Linked DNA regions of Homo sapiens. The protein of the gene in region 1 purifies or fractionates together with the protein of each later gene. This does not show direct contact. Each region holds a gene or a part of one and is shown on either strand. Other genes may lie near its edges.

What was found.
Region 2: the proteins of ANTXR1 (region 1) and RICTOR purify together in Homo sapiens (affinity purification with mass spectrometry; 3 studies listed by BioGRID and IntAct, with this or other methods). This does not show direct contact.

What each region holds. Positions count from the first base shown.
Region 1 is NC_000002.12:69,007,914-69,016,569, forward strand, and holds the start of ANTXR1 (anthrax toxin receptor 1 isoform 1 precursor), read left to right. Parts: upstream 1-5,265; 5' UTR 5,266-5,586; coding exon 5,587-5,738; intron 5,739-8,656. UniProt on the Homo sapiens protein: Plays a role in cell attachment and migration. Interacts with extracellular matrix proteins and with the actin cytoskeleton and thereby plays an important role in normal extracellular matrix (ECM) homeostasis.
Region 2 is NC_000005.10:39,064,298-39,071,994, forward strand, and holds part of RICTOR (rapamycin-insensitive companion of mTOR), read right to left. Parts: intron 1-7,697. UniProt on the Homo sapiens protein: Component of the mechanistic target of rapamycin complex 2 (mTORC2), which transduces signals from growth factors to pathways involved in proliferation, cytoskeletal organization, lipogenesis and anabolic output.

The sequences.
Region 1 (8,656 bases):
AAACAAAATGGGTCACTTTAAGACTATTTAAAAGTATATGTGTTCCTCAAACCCCACATTCATTATTGACATTCTTCAGATGAAGGTACCTTGATAAAGCTCCACTGGTTATTTCAGACTGAGCAAATCTCTTTGTCCCCACCTTCACAGTACCCATTCCCCACATCAACCACAACACACACATACTCACGCATTTTGAGAACCACTAGTCCCTCTGGCTTGGGACTTGGATGGTGGCCATTAGCAAAATGATCAAAGGAGTGTTAGGCTTGATGGGTTGGGTAGATTTTTCCTGGCATCTTCAGTTGTAAATTGATCTGGTGTCTCCAAGTAAGACCCTAGTCTTAAATATGTTTAATTATGTCAGAATTGAGCAGAATTGGACAGGATTGGGCTGAATTGGTCTTGTGGCTAGATTTGTGTTGGCCTTGACTTGCTTAATACAGGTTTCCATTGGGCATTTGTACTCTCTGGGCTTGTCAGGACCCTGGACTGTACTGGTCCATTTCCACTGTCATCTGAGTTCTGAGTTGGATTGGCCTGGTCTCTGGTCTAAATGAAACGAACTTTTTGTTCAGCAAGTCTTTGGGTCCTTTTGAGCATCTGAAATGGACGTTTTAGGTTGTTATAAACTATGGATTACTCTTGACTGGATCCTTGGTAAGAATGTGCTCTTCAGAGGCTTGGCTGTGACTTAAGATGCACAGGGATGTTGTGTGGCCTTAGCTGAGCTGGGATGCAAACCAGATTAAACAGGATCTGCCTCTGGGCTGACAATGATATAGGAAATAGGCTGATTTTTTGCAGGGCTCTGAATTGGTCAGAGTTTGATTGGGCCTGTGTTGAATGGGTTTCATCACTGCATTGGAGTAGGTGTTAGCAGGGCTTTGGGATGGGTTTTGGAGTGTCCGTAAATGAGTCAAGGGACTTATTGAACTGAATTTATTTTTAAGGTTGACTTGGTTGGGCTTTGGATAGGGTATCAATGGGATGCTGAGTTCAAAGAGGTTTTGACTGTTTCTAGGCTGAAGTTGTGGCTGGCTTGACCTATAAGATACCATCAGGACATCTTGCTCTAGCCTATGGTTCTGCCCCTGGGCTTAATTTTATTACTGTATCTTTGCTTTCCCTATCACCAAAAGTCAATACTCAGCTGATTCAGATTCTTAAGACACTTTGTTGTTCCAGATGATTAATTGCTTCTGGGAACACTCACTTCACTTTTTGCCTATGGTGGTCCCAGAGACTACAGGATCCTCCAAGATCCTGGAAAACACTGGACCTACCTGACTGACATAAAACTTTATGGAGAGTATCAGATTTTTCCACATTGTGGCAAATATTTCTTCTCTAGGGAAAAAAAATTGTTTTTTACTCAAATTTTTTTGGGGTAGTCTGGGTTACCTGGAACCTTTTCTAAAATGTTAAGAATGCAGACAAATGGCACTTAGTGCCCAGTGAGTTCTTGACAGATTATTAGGACAGTAAACTTTGTGTTTGACAACCGGGGAAAAGGGCTCGCTCACATGTGTTTGAAAGTAGAGGGCAAGTAAGAGAGAGCGAGTTACTAAGAGGCTGATATTGTAGATAGGCAGGGCATATTTAATAATTACTGTCTCAAGGAAGGAAGCCTAGTAAATTCAGGTAGAACAGTGATCAGAGTGCAGGACTAAAGCCTTGAGACAATCAGTCTAGTCAGACAAACTCTCCAATCTTTTGGAAGGCAGGGACCTTGAAATTCCTGGTACCTTTGAATATCTTGGGATTCTTCCTTGTGGCAAATAAAACATTTGAACATTTACAAGTTACCCCTTATCCCCTTATCTTCTTGAAAGAGAGTTTTCTGCTTCCTGGTAACCCAGCACAGTCTAACATTGTTCGCATTACTTTACTGGAATGCTCCTTTGTGACACAGTGACACTTGTGCCAAATCACTGGAGTTTTCTTAGGGCTTATCCTCCTGACTTCCACAGCATATGGCTCTGTTGACTACTTCTTCCTGCAAGAAACTCTTTCCTGCCTAGGCTTCCAGGTTACCCTTCAAATGCTCCCACGTGCATGGTTAATTTTCTCCTGTACTTCTCCAAGTCCAGAAATATCCATCCACAGGCTGAACATCACCATGTATATCGTTCTTCCACTGCCTTGAATTAAAGAAGCAGAAGAGTCCCTTCCAAACCTCATGTATCTATCTTTATAGGCCTTGAAAAGGCTGATCAACCTCTTCCAGAACACTGGAGGCCTTGGAAGGCATTAGGAACCAGGACACTCCCAATCAAGTCAGAACACTGAGAATTACCTCAAGAGGATGGTAACATTTGTGTAGGAAGATCTTGACATTTATATGTCTCTGAGTTGTAAAATCATTCTGGAAAATGCTAGCAGGAACCCACCAAGACTCTCCCCAAGCCGCCTTCTAGCCTGCAGTGACTGACCCACCTCTCCCATTTCTCTACAAGCACTAATTATGAGGCCACTACAGCCTAACAAACAAAGGCAAAAGTTGTTGCCAATTTTTGACACCTGACAACATCCCCCGCTGAGCGAACATGCTGGGATCACAGAAGAGGCTTCATTTACCACTGTTATAGACTATGGACATCTTTGTCGTATTTAAACTCTCCCTGCGAATAACCATATCTCTGCAGCTCAACTTCAAGCTCACTTCTCAAGAATGTTTGGAGAACACCTCCCTACAGTGAGTGAGGCTGGCACAAAGCCCTCTAGGTAGAAGAGGCAGCCTGGAATGTATTTCCTCAGGCTGGAGGGAGAGCAGGGTAGAGGCATTTTAAGATCTAGAGATGGACTTCTTTCTAGAATCCTGGAAGAGAGGCAGAGGCACTGGGACACTCAAATATCTGAATTCCTCTCACTGCCTGTCTGCCCTGGAAAATACCATCTTTGTCCAGAGGAGCCTCTTGATCTTTCTCCCCTTCCCCATAACCTTGTTTCCCACAGAATATCCTCTCTCCTCCCACCCCTGGAAGAACTATGCCCTCATCTATCTTGGATAATGGTGTCTGTAACTTTGAAGAGCTCTATCAGGACACCCCCTGCTTCCTTCCGGGGTAATTTCCTAAACTATTTTGCCTGTAAAGCTCTCAACACATTCCTCTGTCACCTAAACTCTTAACAACTTGAGACGGCCCTGGGGGCATGACGGTGAGAGAAGATATTCTTAATGCTTCCCTGATTCATCTCACCCCTCCACCCGCTTTCCACATTCAAGCTCTTTCCTATTCCTTGCCAATCCCATAAACACTCTCTCCATCACATTGTCATATCCCTTTTCTTCTCTTACCAGCTCCCACCAGTGTTTCTGCTTTCCCTTACCCATCTGATTTCTATAGATTTCCTCACTGTCTTTCAAGTCATCGAGCTGCAGTGGGGTCAGCATGGGTTTTCAATCCTTTGAGGAGAAAGAAGACATGGAAGAGGAAGACTTGGATGGTTAGGGTATTTTAATCTCCCTCCAATTATTTTTTTCCTGAGAGCAATAATTCCCAAAGTATGGGTTTAATACATTTTATCTATGAAACAACAGTTTCATGGTCAAGTAAGTCTGGGAAACACAGTTCAGCAATTTTTTTCCTACAGAAATTCTCAAGGCTTTAATATGATACTAGGCATATATTAGTTATCTTTTATTATATTTAAAATTGCCCCCAAACTTAGAGACTTAAAACACTAATAAAAATTCGCTTATTTCTGTGGATCAGGAATCAGGGAATGGCTTAGCTGGGTAGTTCTTGTTTGGGATCTCTCATGAGGTTGCAGTCAAGATGTCAGACAGGGCTGCAGTCAGCTGAAGGCTTCACAGGATGTCAGGAACCTATGTCCAAGATGGGTCACTCACAATGTTGGCAAAGTGGTGTTGGCTGCCAGCAGGGGTCTCAGTTCCTTACCACACGGACCCCTCCTTGGGGCTGCTTGTGTGTTCTCACGACATGGCAGTGGGCTCTCCTACAGTGAGTGATCCAAGAGAGAAGGGAAAAACCACAACATCTCTCATGGCCTATCCTCAGAAGCCACACACCATCTTCTTAATTACTCACAGGTCAGTCTCACCCAAGGTGGAAGGGGTGTGAATTCCAGGAGGTGAGAAACACTGGGTTCATTTTGGAGGCAGGTCAGTGCTACGCATGACAAATCTTCAAGGCTGATTTGACAACATGATTATTGGTTAGTGGAGCATTCCAAGACACTAAGATTCCATGGTACACATGTTGGGGGAAACCACCATGGACTGTCACATTGGGGTATAAGGGTCTGGGAGGCACACAAGTGGAGGGGAATATGTGTGTCTGGAGGAAGAATCCTGGGAAAACAGTACATGCATATGCACTGAGGGCTCCCAGAGCGGAAGACAATAGGAAGCTAGAACTGGGGTACCACTCGGAACTGGGGCTCAGAGGCTGATTCTCCAATTTAGAGAGGCTAGCACGGAACTTCCCTGCCAATTCCAAACTGCTTGGAGCGTCTCTACTCTTGTAAGCTGTTTACTTCCTCCATCCTAAATCAAAGATAGAGAGAAAATGTCAAAGTTCACAGGCTGAAAAGAAGAACTATTATCATAGAATCCCTAAAAGATGGAGATGGTGGCCATCTAGAAGGCTCAGCTGTTCCATGCCGGGAGCAGCCCTAAGTACCACACTCTGTGGGGTTGTTTGTGATGGTTTCAGACCGGACCCCAACAGTCTCTTTTATGGTCCAGACAGACTAAGACCATGTAAGGTCACTCTGATGACTCATACCACAAAGGTCCCGTTTTTCCCCTACTTCATCTGCACAATGGTTTGTTTGCAAAGGTCCTAGCCTGGGGAGCCGGAGTCACCGTGGTTGGAGGAAACAAATTCTCATCCAATGTTTAGTGACCTTATCAAAAGATGCAGGATAGGGAAGGAAAAGAAGGAATAGAAGGACTACAGAGAATGGAGAGGCGGTCACGGAAAAAGAAAGGGAAAGTGCGTGGGAAGAAGGAAGGAGTAAGAAAACACGCACAGCTCACATGAGAATGGTAAGGACAAGGAAATTTATACGCGAAGCCTGGAAGCGCCCCCGCCCCCGACGCACTCCCGCGGGTCCCACGCGTGCTTTCGCCGCCTTTGTCCACAAGGTGGCAGCCTTTGAACTTTCTTCCCCGTAAGAACGCGAAAGGGGGGCAGAGAGGAAGGAGAGAAGGCAAAGCACTGCCCCCACCAAGAACAATTTGAAACCCCCCCCCCCCCCCATCATATTTAAAATCTGGGACAAAGAACCGTCGGGACGGAACTCCTTCCATTGCAAAAGCTCGGCGCGGCCTCGGGAGCTGCCCGGCGGCCCCGGACCGAGGCAGCCCTCCCCTTTAAAAGAAGCGGAGGACAGGATTGGGATCCTTGAAACCCGAAACCCAGAAACAGCATCGGAGCGGAAACCAGAGGGGAAACCTTGAACTCCTCCAGACAATTGCTTCCGGGGAGTTGCGAGGGAGCGAGGGGGAATAAAGGACCCGCGAGGAAGGGCCCGCGGATGGCGCGTCCCTGAGGGTCGTGGCGAGTTCGCGGAGCGTGGGAAGGAGCGGACCCTGCTCTCCCCGGGCTGCGGGCCATGGCCACGGCGGAGCGGAGAGCCCTCGGCATCGGCTTCCAGTGGCTCTCTTTGGCCACTCTGGTGCTCATCTGCGCCGGGCAAGGGGGACGCAGGGAGGATGGGGGTCCAGCCTGCTACGGCGGATTTGACCTGTACTTCATTTTGGACAAGTAAGTGCCGCGAGTTGTCCCCCCCACCCCAGGCTAAGCGGGCGAAAACGCTTTCGCCCCGGGCCGGGCTCGTTGGCAGGGTCGCCTGGGGACAGGAGCGCATCTCCAGGGCCACAGAGGGACCGCGCGGCAGGCGGCGGCGGAGTGCTGCGCCTTTGTTGGGGCGCGCTCCTCCCAGCCTCGGCTCCAGAGCCCGCAGCCGAGGCGACGCCGCTTGCTCGGAAGGGGACAGACTTCTTTTCTGTCTTGCTTTCTGTGTCCCAGGAGCAGGCAAGGGGCTTGGAGGATGCTATTGTCTTGCTGAGTTTCTGTGACTCCCTCCCGTGTTGGTGGGAAAGGCTTGCTTACCAAAGGCAGAACTTGCAGGCACAGGCACTCCTAAAGTTAGAGGCTTGGGCATTTTAAAGCCAATCGTCGCATTTTGTTTTTGTTTTTGTTTTTTTGTTTTGTTTTGAAACGCTGTCCCACGGAAGGCATTATCTTTGCTCCTAATCATGTAATGCATACTTCTCACCGGGCACTGAGTGAGAATGAAAGGCAGGGTTTCTTAACCTTGGCACTTCTGAGATTGAAACCTGGTAATTCTTTGTGGTGGGGGCTGTCCTGCGCGTTGTAGGATGTTTAGCAGCATCCTTGGCCTCTGCCCACTGGATGCCAGTAACATCCCCCGCCCCCCACTCCTTCCTTATTAGTGGTGACAACTAAAAATGCCTCCAGACATTGCCAAATGTCCCTCCCCTTCGACTTGAGTACCCCAGATGTAGTGAATTCAAGCTCTTGGCCATTTGACTGGTGGGCTACCAGGGAGGTGCAGGAGCCCTGGTTTCCTTGCAAAAAGTGGTTAGGCTTTAGGATTTGCTCAAGGGAGAGCTGAATTCTGACCAATGAAGCACTTCCCAAATCCGCATAAGTTTGCCAAGCCACAGTCACCCAAGGAAGCTTCATGCTATCTGCTGAAAACCAGCTTCAACGATAAAAAGCCCCTCACAGAAGATCCGTGCTCATTAAAACTGAGTGAGCTCTCCAGTGCCAGGAGAGGCGCTTTGCTGTTACAGTGGTGGGGAGATGGATTTCACAGACTGGAAAGTATTTAGGAGTTGGAAAAAGAGTCCTGCAAAATAAGCTGGCTAGCTAGACACCAAATGTGCTTTGCAGTTGCCCCTGGAGTTTGATTTTTCCGTAAAGGCTGTTTTGAACTCCAGATTCTTTGGATGAAAAGTGAGATTTCTTTTCTGCAGATTTATGAGAAGGTGGATACTGAAAATATGCTCCAGTGCTAAGGAATGGAATTTCTTTTGTTACTTCTAGTGGCTGGAAGCATCAGCTCACAGACTTAGAGACAGTGCATGAAAACAGTCGGAGGTGCTCCTCCTCCGTGCTTTTTTAAAAAGCCAATTCAGAATGATATTCAGGAAAATCTAAAAAAAAAAAAAAAGGGGGACAGAATCACCATGTCTCTGAATGGATGACTGTAGAGATACTATAGAGATATGGATACTGTAGAGATAACCAGTTTTCCCCAAATTAATTTAGAAATTGAATTCAACTTTTCAGTCAAAGTTCTGAAAGAGTTTGTTTTGATGATAAGAATTTAACAAAATGATTCTAGGCTTATCTTAGCAAAAAAAAAAAAAACAGGTAAAAAGAGCTGAAACATTTTTGGAAAAGAATAATGAAGCCATATTCTCTCTCCAAATATTAAAATGTATTATAATGTAAATTAATAAAAACAGGATGGTAAAGGCCAAAGAATAGGTGGATAGAGTAGAAAATCTAAAAAGACAAGTACATGTAGATCCAAACACATGTAAACATTTAGTGGAATTTCCAATCAGTATATAATGATTCATTAATTTAAAAAAAAATGGTTCCTGGACAAGTGATTGATAACATGGAGAATGAAAAAGGTTAGATTTATACTTTACAAACCATACACATAAATAAATTTCAGAAAGGTTGAAAATCTAAATATTTAGAATGAAATGATCAAAGAACTAGAAGATAATTTAGATGAATATTACTGTAATCTTAGGTTTAGAGCTTTTAAAACATGATAAGGAAGAAACCATAAAGGAAAATAGAGATTTGAATATATTAAAATTTTACACTTCTATAAATGAAAAATAAGCCATGAAAAAACATAAGAAGTTACAATAACTATTGCCACATAAATCACTCTCTTAAGATTGATTTTCATATATAAAAAGCAGTAAAAGCAAAATCCCAATAGGAAATAGCCTAAGTGCATAATTCACAAGAGAAAAAAATATGAGTCAATAAATGAACTAAAAAGGTCGTTATTAATCAAAGAAATGAAAAAATCAAACAATATGATTTTTATTAGGTTGGCAAAAACTTTTTTAAAAATTACAATATTCAGTATTGGCCAATTTGTGGGAGATAGGCACTGTCATTTCTTACTAGGGAAAATGTAAATTGGTGCAGTCTTTCTAGACTTGCGCTGTCCAGTAGAACTTTCTAGGTCGGTAGAAAAGTTCTATATCTGTGCAGTTCAATACAGTAGCTACTAGCCATATGTGACTCGAGCACTTGAAATGTAGTTAGTGCGATTGAGGAAGTGAATTTTTAATTTTATATAAGTTTAACTAATTTGAACTTTAATAGCCACATGTGGCTACCATACCGGATAGTGCAGACAAGAAGATAATTTGGCGACACATATAAAATGCTTTTAAAAAATGAGGGGTGTTCCTTTCCATCGAGCAATTTCATGTCCTAAAGAAAAAAAATCCAAATAGTCACAAAGAAGTACCTACATGTATGTTTATGGAGGTGCTGTTTATAATAAAAAGCTGAGGATTACATGTGTCTAACAGCAGTGGATTTACTAAGGTATGATATGTGTATAGTATTGAACCTGCATTGCATGTTATACAAGCTTGTAAGCTATTTTAGGA
Region 2 (7,697 bases), on another chromosome or scaffold:
TTATTCATACAGATTAACAAATATTTTAACCTGTTTATGTTCTTCCACTAACAGTATTTGCTTAGGAAACAAAAATCTGTGCTAATAATTCAAATAAAATGTAAAAGAAAATATACATCAATCTATTGTGGGAGAGAAAAGAACATAAAATATTTTCTCACCAATATAAAGTATTTAGATTATATATTTAGCATTCTTCTACCATTATTCATCTTTTTAAGGCAGGTAATTGAGAATGGACTGTATTTAATAGCTTGGTGACAGAGGCACAGATACACAGGCAAGCAAATCATTCGCTCACCCCACTGTGCTTTTCGCAGTCTTATTCTTGGTAGCCTGAGACCTGGGAGCGGGAGGAGGCAGCAAGTCACTGCAGGTGGATCACTTAAAAGGAAATTGAGAGTTGACTGTAATTTAAATTTAAAGTGCTATGAAATACCACCACTCCTACATGTATTCATTATTGTTTGTGGGACTACTACTCACAGTGATTTAACAAGGCTACAAATGCTTTCTTTTTAACCTTTTCAATATTCCAGGTCTGTAGTGATATGTGAGAATTACAAAGGTAGGAGGCTAAAGTGCTGCAAGTATAAAGTAGTATGCATTTTAGAGGTGAGGAAATTGAAGCCAGAGAGGTTAAATAGCATGCCATATCTTCCTCAGATTAAAGCAGAACCTCGTTCTCTGGACTTCAACTTCAATGCAACAGTCTAGCAGCCCCTTCAATTCAAAACTCTTCTCCTGGCTTATGTATCAGGCCATTCTTGCATTGTTACAAAGAAACACCTAAGACTGGGTAATTTATAAGAAAAGAGGTTTAATTGGCTATCATTTCTGCAGCCTATACAGGAAGCAGGGCACCAGCACTTGCTTCTGGGATGGCTTCAGGAAGCTTTTACTCATAGCAAAGACGAAGCGTGTGCAGGCATCTCACATGGCAGAGCGGGAGCAAGAGGGAGCTGGGGGGAAGGAGCCACAGGCTTTTAAATAACCAGATGTTGTGAAAACCTACTATCACGAAGACAGCACCAAGCCATGAGGGATCCACTCCCATGACCCAAACACCTCCCACCATGCCCCATCTCCAGCATTGGAGATTACAATTCAACATGAGATTCGGGTGGGGACAAATATCCAAACTGTATCATTCTGCCCACGGCCCCTCCCAAATCTCATGTCCTTCTCACACTGCAAAATAAACTCATGCCTTCCCAACAGTCTCCCAAAGTCTTAACTCATTCCAGCATTAACTCTGAAGTCCAAAGTCTCATCTGAAACAAGGCAAGTCCCTTCCACTTATGAGGCTGTAAAGTCACAAATAAGTTATTTACTCCCAAGATACAATGAGGATATAGGCATTGGATAAACATTGCCATTTCAAAAAGGAGAAATCAACCAAAAGAAAGGGGCTACAGGCCCCATGCAAGTTCAAAACCCAGCAGGGCAGTCATTAAATCTTAAAGCTCCAAAATAATCTCCTTTGACTCTATGTTCCACATTCAAGGCACACTGCTGCAAAGGGTGGGCTCCCAAGGCTTTGGGCAACTCTGCCCTGTGGCTTTGCAGGGTTTAGCCCCCAGGAATGCTCTCACAGGTTTTAGTTGAATGCCTGTGGCTTCTCCAGGTATAGGATGCAAACTGCCAGTGGATCTACCATTCTGTGGTCTGGAGGATGGTAGGCCCCTTCTCACAGCTCCACTAGGCAGTGCCCCACTGGGGACTCTGGGGGGCTCCAACCCCACATTTCCCCTTGGCCCCACCCTAATAGAGATCCTCAATGAGGGCTCCACCCCTGCAGCAGGCTTCTGCCTAGACACCCAGGCTTTCTCATACATCCTCTGAAATCTAGGCAGAGGCTCCCAAGCCTCAGTTCTTGCACTCTGGGCACCTGCAGGCTTAATAATACATGTAAGCCATCAAGTCTTATGGCTTGCACCCTTTGAAGCAGCAGCCCGAACTGTACCTGGGCCCCTTTGAACAAGGCTGGAAGCCTGAGTGGCTGGGATGCAGGGAGCAGTGTCTTGAGGCTGTGCAAGGCAGCAAGGCCCGGCTAGCCCAGGCCCACAAAACCATTCTTTCTTCCTAGGCCTCTGGGCCTATGATGAGAGGGGCTGCTGTGAAGGTTTCTAAAATGCCTTGAAGGCCTTTTCTCCAACTTCACGGATATCAGCACTTTGGCATGTGTTTAATTATGCAAATATCTCTAGCACGTGGTTGCTCTATAGCCTGCTTGAATTCCTCCCCTGAAAAAGCTTTTTCTTTCTTTGCCACATGGCTAGGCTGCAAATTTCCCAAACCTTTATGCAGTGCTTCCTGTTTAAAAACAAATTCCAACTTTAAGTCATTTCTTTGCTCCTACATCTTAGCATGGGCTGTTAGCAGCATCCAGGACACATCTTGAACACTTTGCTGCTTAGACATTTCTTCCGCCAGATACCAGAGGTCATCACTCTCAAGTTCAAACTTCCACAGGTCCCTACAGAATGAACAGAATGCAACCAAGTGCTTTGCTAAAGCATAATGAGGGTGACCTTTGCTCCAGTTCCTACTAAGTTCTTCATTTCCACCTGAGACCTCATCATCATGGACTTCATTGTCCGTATCACTACCAGCATTTTGGTCACAACCATTCAACCAGTCTCTAAGAAGTTCCAAACTTTCCCTCATTTTCCTGTCTTCTGAGTCCTCCAAACTCTTCCAACCTCTGCCTGTTACCCAGTTTCAAAGCTGCTTCCATATTTTCAGGTATCTTTAGAGCAATGCTCCACGCCCACTTACCAATTTTCTGTAATAGGCTGTTCTTGCACTGCTATAAAGAAGCATCTGAGCCTGGGTAATTTAAAAGAGGTTTAATTGGCTATTGGTTCTGTAGGCTGTACAGGAAGCATGGTGCCAGCATCTGCTTCTCGGGAGGCCTCAGGGTGTTTCTGCTCAAGATGGAAGGTGAAGCAGGAGTAGGCATCTCACATGGCAAAGTAGGAGTGAGAAAGAGTAAGAGGGTAGGTGCACACTTTTAAACAACCAGATCTTGCCAGAACTCACTATTGCAAAAACAACACCAAGCCATCAGGGATCCATTCCCATGGCCCAAACACCTCCCACCAAGCCCCACCTCCAGCATTGGGGATTACAATTCAACATGAGATTTGGGTGGGGACAAATATCCAAACTGTTTTAGCTTAAGAGATCACAATTTTCTCTCTTCTCTTCTATTGACTCCTTTCTTCTTATTGATTCCTACCCTATGATATACACCCTCATCATCTTATCTATTTTCATACATTCAAATCTTCAGCTCTTTTTCCATTTATATCCCTTTTCTCAACATCTTACACACAGAACAATCAGACTAGAAATTCAGGGCAACTAAAACCTCCATTCCAGTATTTGCTGCCACCTTTTACACATTTATATAATCACGTGAAATTCAAGGTGCAAAGCTGAACTCATTATCATCCTTCCCAAAATGACTTCTCCATTTTATGGCACCATCAATTTCATTGTCCCTTAGGACAGTAATCTTAAAGTACTCTTTTCCTTCTAATCTCCTTAATACTGTACTATTCTTTTTCCCATGTCTCTCACTCCCTTCTTCCAGTCAATTAATGCCTCAGTGATTATCTGATGGATGCTGGGGGAAGCGGATGTTAAAAATGGGTAAAACAGGCCTCCTGCCCTCAAGAAGCTAAAGATCTAGTGAAGGGGGAAGAAACTGGACAAAGAACTAAAGTAAGACAATGGTAACTGCAATTTAGAAAATAATAAATAAAGACGTAAAAAAGCAGAGAAGGAAGCAATAAATTCCCACTGGGATAAGGAAAGATCTCCAGAAATGGCATGTGACCTCAACCTTAAAGAATTAGGACTTCTATAGATAAACTGTGCTGGAAATGCAATTCAAGGCAAAGGAAATACCTACGCAAGGTCAAGCGAATATTAAACTACATGCCATGTTCAAGGAATAGCAAACATTCTTCTTTGACTGAAAGATTCTCAAGTAGGGGCATACAGTCTCCACGGAGAAAGAGGTGGAATGGGGGTTGGTGCTTTAGACTGGCAAACTCTCCCCAATCCTCTCTGAGAAGGACTGTATGTAATGAAGTGAACTATGCAGAGAGGCAGATATATTGAGATGTGTATGGTTAAAATAGTACAGAAGAAAACCATATGGGAGTAAATCAAAAAAGGCCTTGAATGCCAAACTAAAGAAATGTGGACTGTATTCTGTGAGCAAAAATTAGCCTAGAAAATGTGTGTATGTGTTTTGTTTTGTTTTTTTATTTAAGAGAACAACAAGATCAGATCTAGATTTCTGGGAAATAATCCTGGCAGGCATACAGTAGACCGAGTGAAAAAAGGTGAGAAGATATTACTGCCACACGATGACATAATGAGGATATGAACTGACAATGGGAACAGAAGGAGAGACTGAATTCAACAGCTATTTCAGAAGCTAATCAGAGGAGTTTAGCAATACAACAAAGAGGATAAGCAGCAGATCTCTAGCTTGAATAACAGAGGATGGCGGAAATACCTAGAATGTGAAAAGTGGGTACACTTTGGGGTGCAAAGTTTTACACATCACAACTCTGAGATGATTATCAGACACATACCAGTCACTCACTAAGCCCTGTGACACTGGTTAAGTTACCTGTTTGAGTTTTAGCCCTTTAAAATTTCAAAGCCTATATTCTCAACTGTAAAACAGAGACAATAAGTGTAGCTAAAACAGCTGAATATTAAGTAAAATAATGAAATCAGTGCCTGGCACAAAACTAGTATTATAGTAATAGTATGTATAATAGTAGAATGTGGAACTTAAAAATGCCCATAAATTTTGCAAGAGGTTACTAGCATCTTTTAAGAAATTATTTTCAGTACAGAGGGAGAGTTTTGCTTACAAGACTTTGTTAAGCAATAAAGTTGTGGAGTGAAGACAAACTATTCTGTCTGTAGAGCCTTCAAAAAAAAGTTTTTGTAATATTGTCGTTATCATTCCATATCTCCCACTTTCAGCCCATGCCTAACATAGTACCTGGTCCATGTGAAGAACATAAAAATTGCTTGCTGAACATGAGAAAACTGAGCCAACTGTAAGGGAGAAATGAAGAGAAGATCTTAGTTCTACAAAGAATCTTGAGGAAACAGTATTAGAAGCATAAACGTTTTTCCAAGTTACCCTTGGAAAAGAATAGCAACGCTTTATTCTTTGAATCAGGGTAAAGACAGTAAGTCTGGGCAGACAATTGAGGAATTCACACTGGATGGGCAGCCTCTACATTTTAATAAAGAAATAAAATTCACTGCATAGAGTGGGGGGACTACAAAATCAGTCTGAAATCTGAAGAAAGCAAATTAGATAATTCTTCCATTTTAATATGTATTTGACTTCATTTCTGTAGCCAACGCCATGGTCCAGTCTTCTATCATCCGTCAGATTATATCAGCAGCACCCTAGGCAGCTCCTCTGCTTCCTAACTTTCCCCTTCCCAGGGTATGGTATATTCCCAAGAGAGCACATATTTCCTTCCACTATGTCCACCATTATTCTTTTAAGAAGTCAACCCCTCTATGAGACTTCTCTGATCCTTTTACCCACCAGACAGTTAATCATTCTCTCCTCTGGCTACTATTGGGTTACCTCTGTTTCCTATATAGTTTGATTACTTAATTTATTTTTCCACCTGCAATCATTTCCTTATGTCTATTCCAATGAAACCCTTAAAAGGGGGAAAGAGTTTCCTCATTTTTATTCTTCCAGCAGTTAATTCAGCATCTGGTATATAAATGTTCAGTCAATGTCCATTTTGTCTAACTGAATGATTAAACAAATGAGAAAACTCCTAACCAGAAGAAACTGGAAAATAAAAAGTTAGAGTTCAGGGCCGGGTGCGGTGGCTCACGCCTGTAATCCCAGCACTTTGGGAGGCCGAGGCGGGTGGATCATGAGGTCAGGAGATCGAGACCATCCTGGCTAACAAGGTGAAACCCCGTCTCTACTAAAAAAAAATACAAAAAATTAGCCGGGCGCGGTGGCGGGCGCCTGTAGTCCCAGCTACTCGGGAGGCTGAGGCAGGAGAATGGCGTGAACCCGGGAAGCGGAGCTTGCAGTGAGCCGAGATTGCGCCACTGCAGTCCGCAGTCCGGCCTGGGCGACAGAGCGAGACTCCGTCTCAAATAAAAAAAAAAAAAGTTAGAGTTCAAATCTACATCATTTTGGAACCTTTCTGCTTTTCTAGGTATTAGACAGCAACCAAGAGAGTCAGTTTTTTAGTTCTTAGTGGAAACGTAAAGGAGTTAATCAAAAATTATAAAATTCAACTATACTTTTAAATAAATTATATTCTAATAATTATATTTGAACTAGTGTGTCCATATTCTGGGAATTCACTTTGAACACAATAATTAAAGTATACCAGGAGGGGTTTACCCAGGAAGAACACTGTATCTTTTCAAGTGATTCAGTACCAGTAAAGAGATGCACTACTGGACTGATAAGACAGTCTATCCTTGCAGTACAAATGGCGAGAGGAAGCATTTGGGCTTCAAAATACATTTTGGCATGCATTACAGACAGTATTTAATAATATCATTAGCAAATATTGGGGACTTTCACAAATTAAGTAGTTGTCTGAACAAAACTCAGAGCAACCATTACCAATACGCTGACTGTAAAGTCTACTATAATGAAGTTCCTAAACTAGATAAAAATTAATCCATCAACAATTTTTAACTGAGGCACTCTATGTATGAACCACAGCACTAACACAAGTACCAAAACCAACGAAACTTAGAATTCTTCTGAGCCTCAAGAAGCTTGCAAGGCTAGCCAAGTCATTATTAAATAGTATGAAATGTCCTGGTGTCAGAGACAAAAATTCTAAGGTTCTATGAAATACAGTATCACATTTTATCCTAAGTGAATATAACATACTGCACTTCGCTTAGACTTAATTTATTGGTAATGTCACAGATTGCTTTACAATTGTTATATTCAAGAACTCTAACTCAGATAGACTATACCCAATTAGTATAACAGTATGTTTCAAAAAAAAAAGAAGCTCGAATACCATAATTCCTTATTAACAAGTTTATAATATTCAAAACAACCGTTTAAAGTATTTTTAATGTGAGTTTTAAAACTGTGATTTCACAATGTAGGAAGGCAACTAATGTTAAATATCACTTACAAAGTATCCGGTCTTATGCCAAGTACTTTAATTAAGAACTAGCTCATTTACTTTTCACATTCTTAACCCTTTGAAGTTATCTCTTATTTTAGAAATGAAGAAATCAGGGGTAAAGCAAGGTCAAATAACTTGCCCCAAATCACCCAACTATTAAATCTCACAGCTGAGGTTACAATCCAGAATGATTTGACTTTATAGTCAACTCTCTTTTCACTACACATTGATGGATCCTTTAGGGATTACAATGACCATGTCCTCTATTTTATAATGAGCTTTATTAGGTAACTACACAATGAATCTCTCAAAGATTAAATTTAAAAAATAAGAATAAAAGCAAACACTGCCTTGGCATTAAACAAAAAAATTTTTGGTTGCCCAAACTTTATCTTTTTACATACTGTAATCTAATCCACAAACAGCTGCCCTTCAGCTGCAACCCAAACTGCCTCACAGTTCTCAAATTATTACTAAACTTTAATTCCTCATGAATTTTCTTCAAGCCTT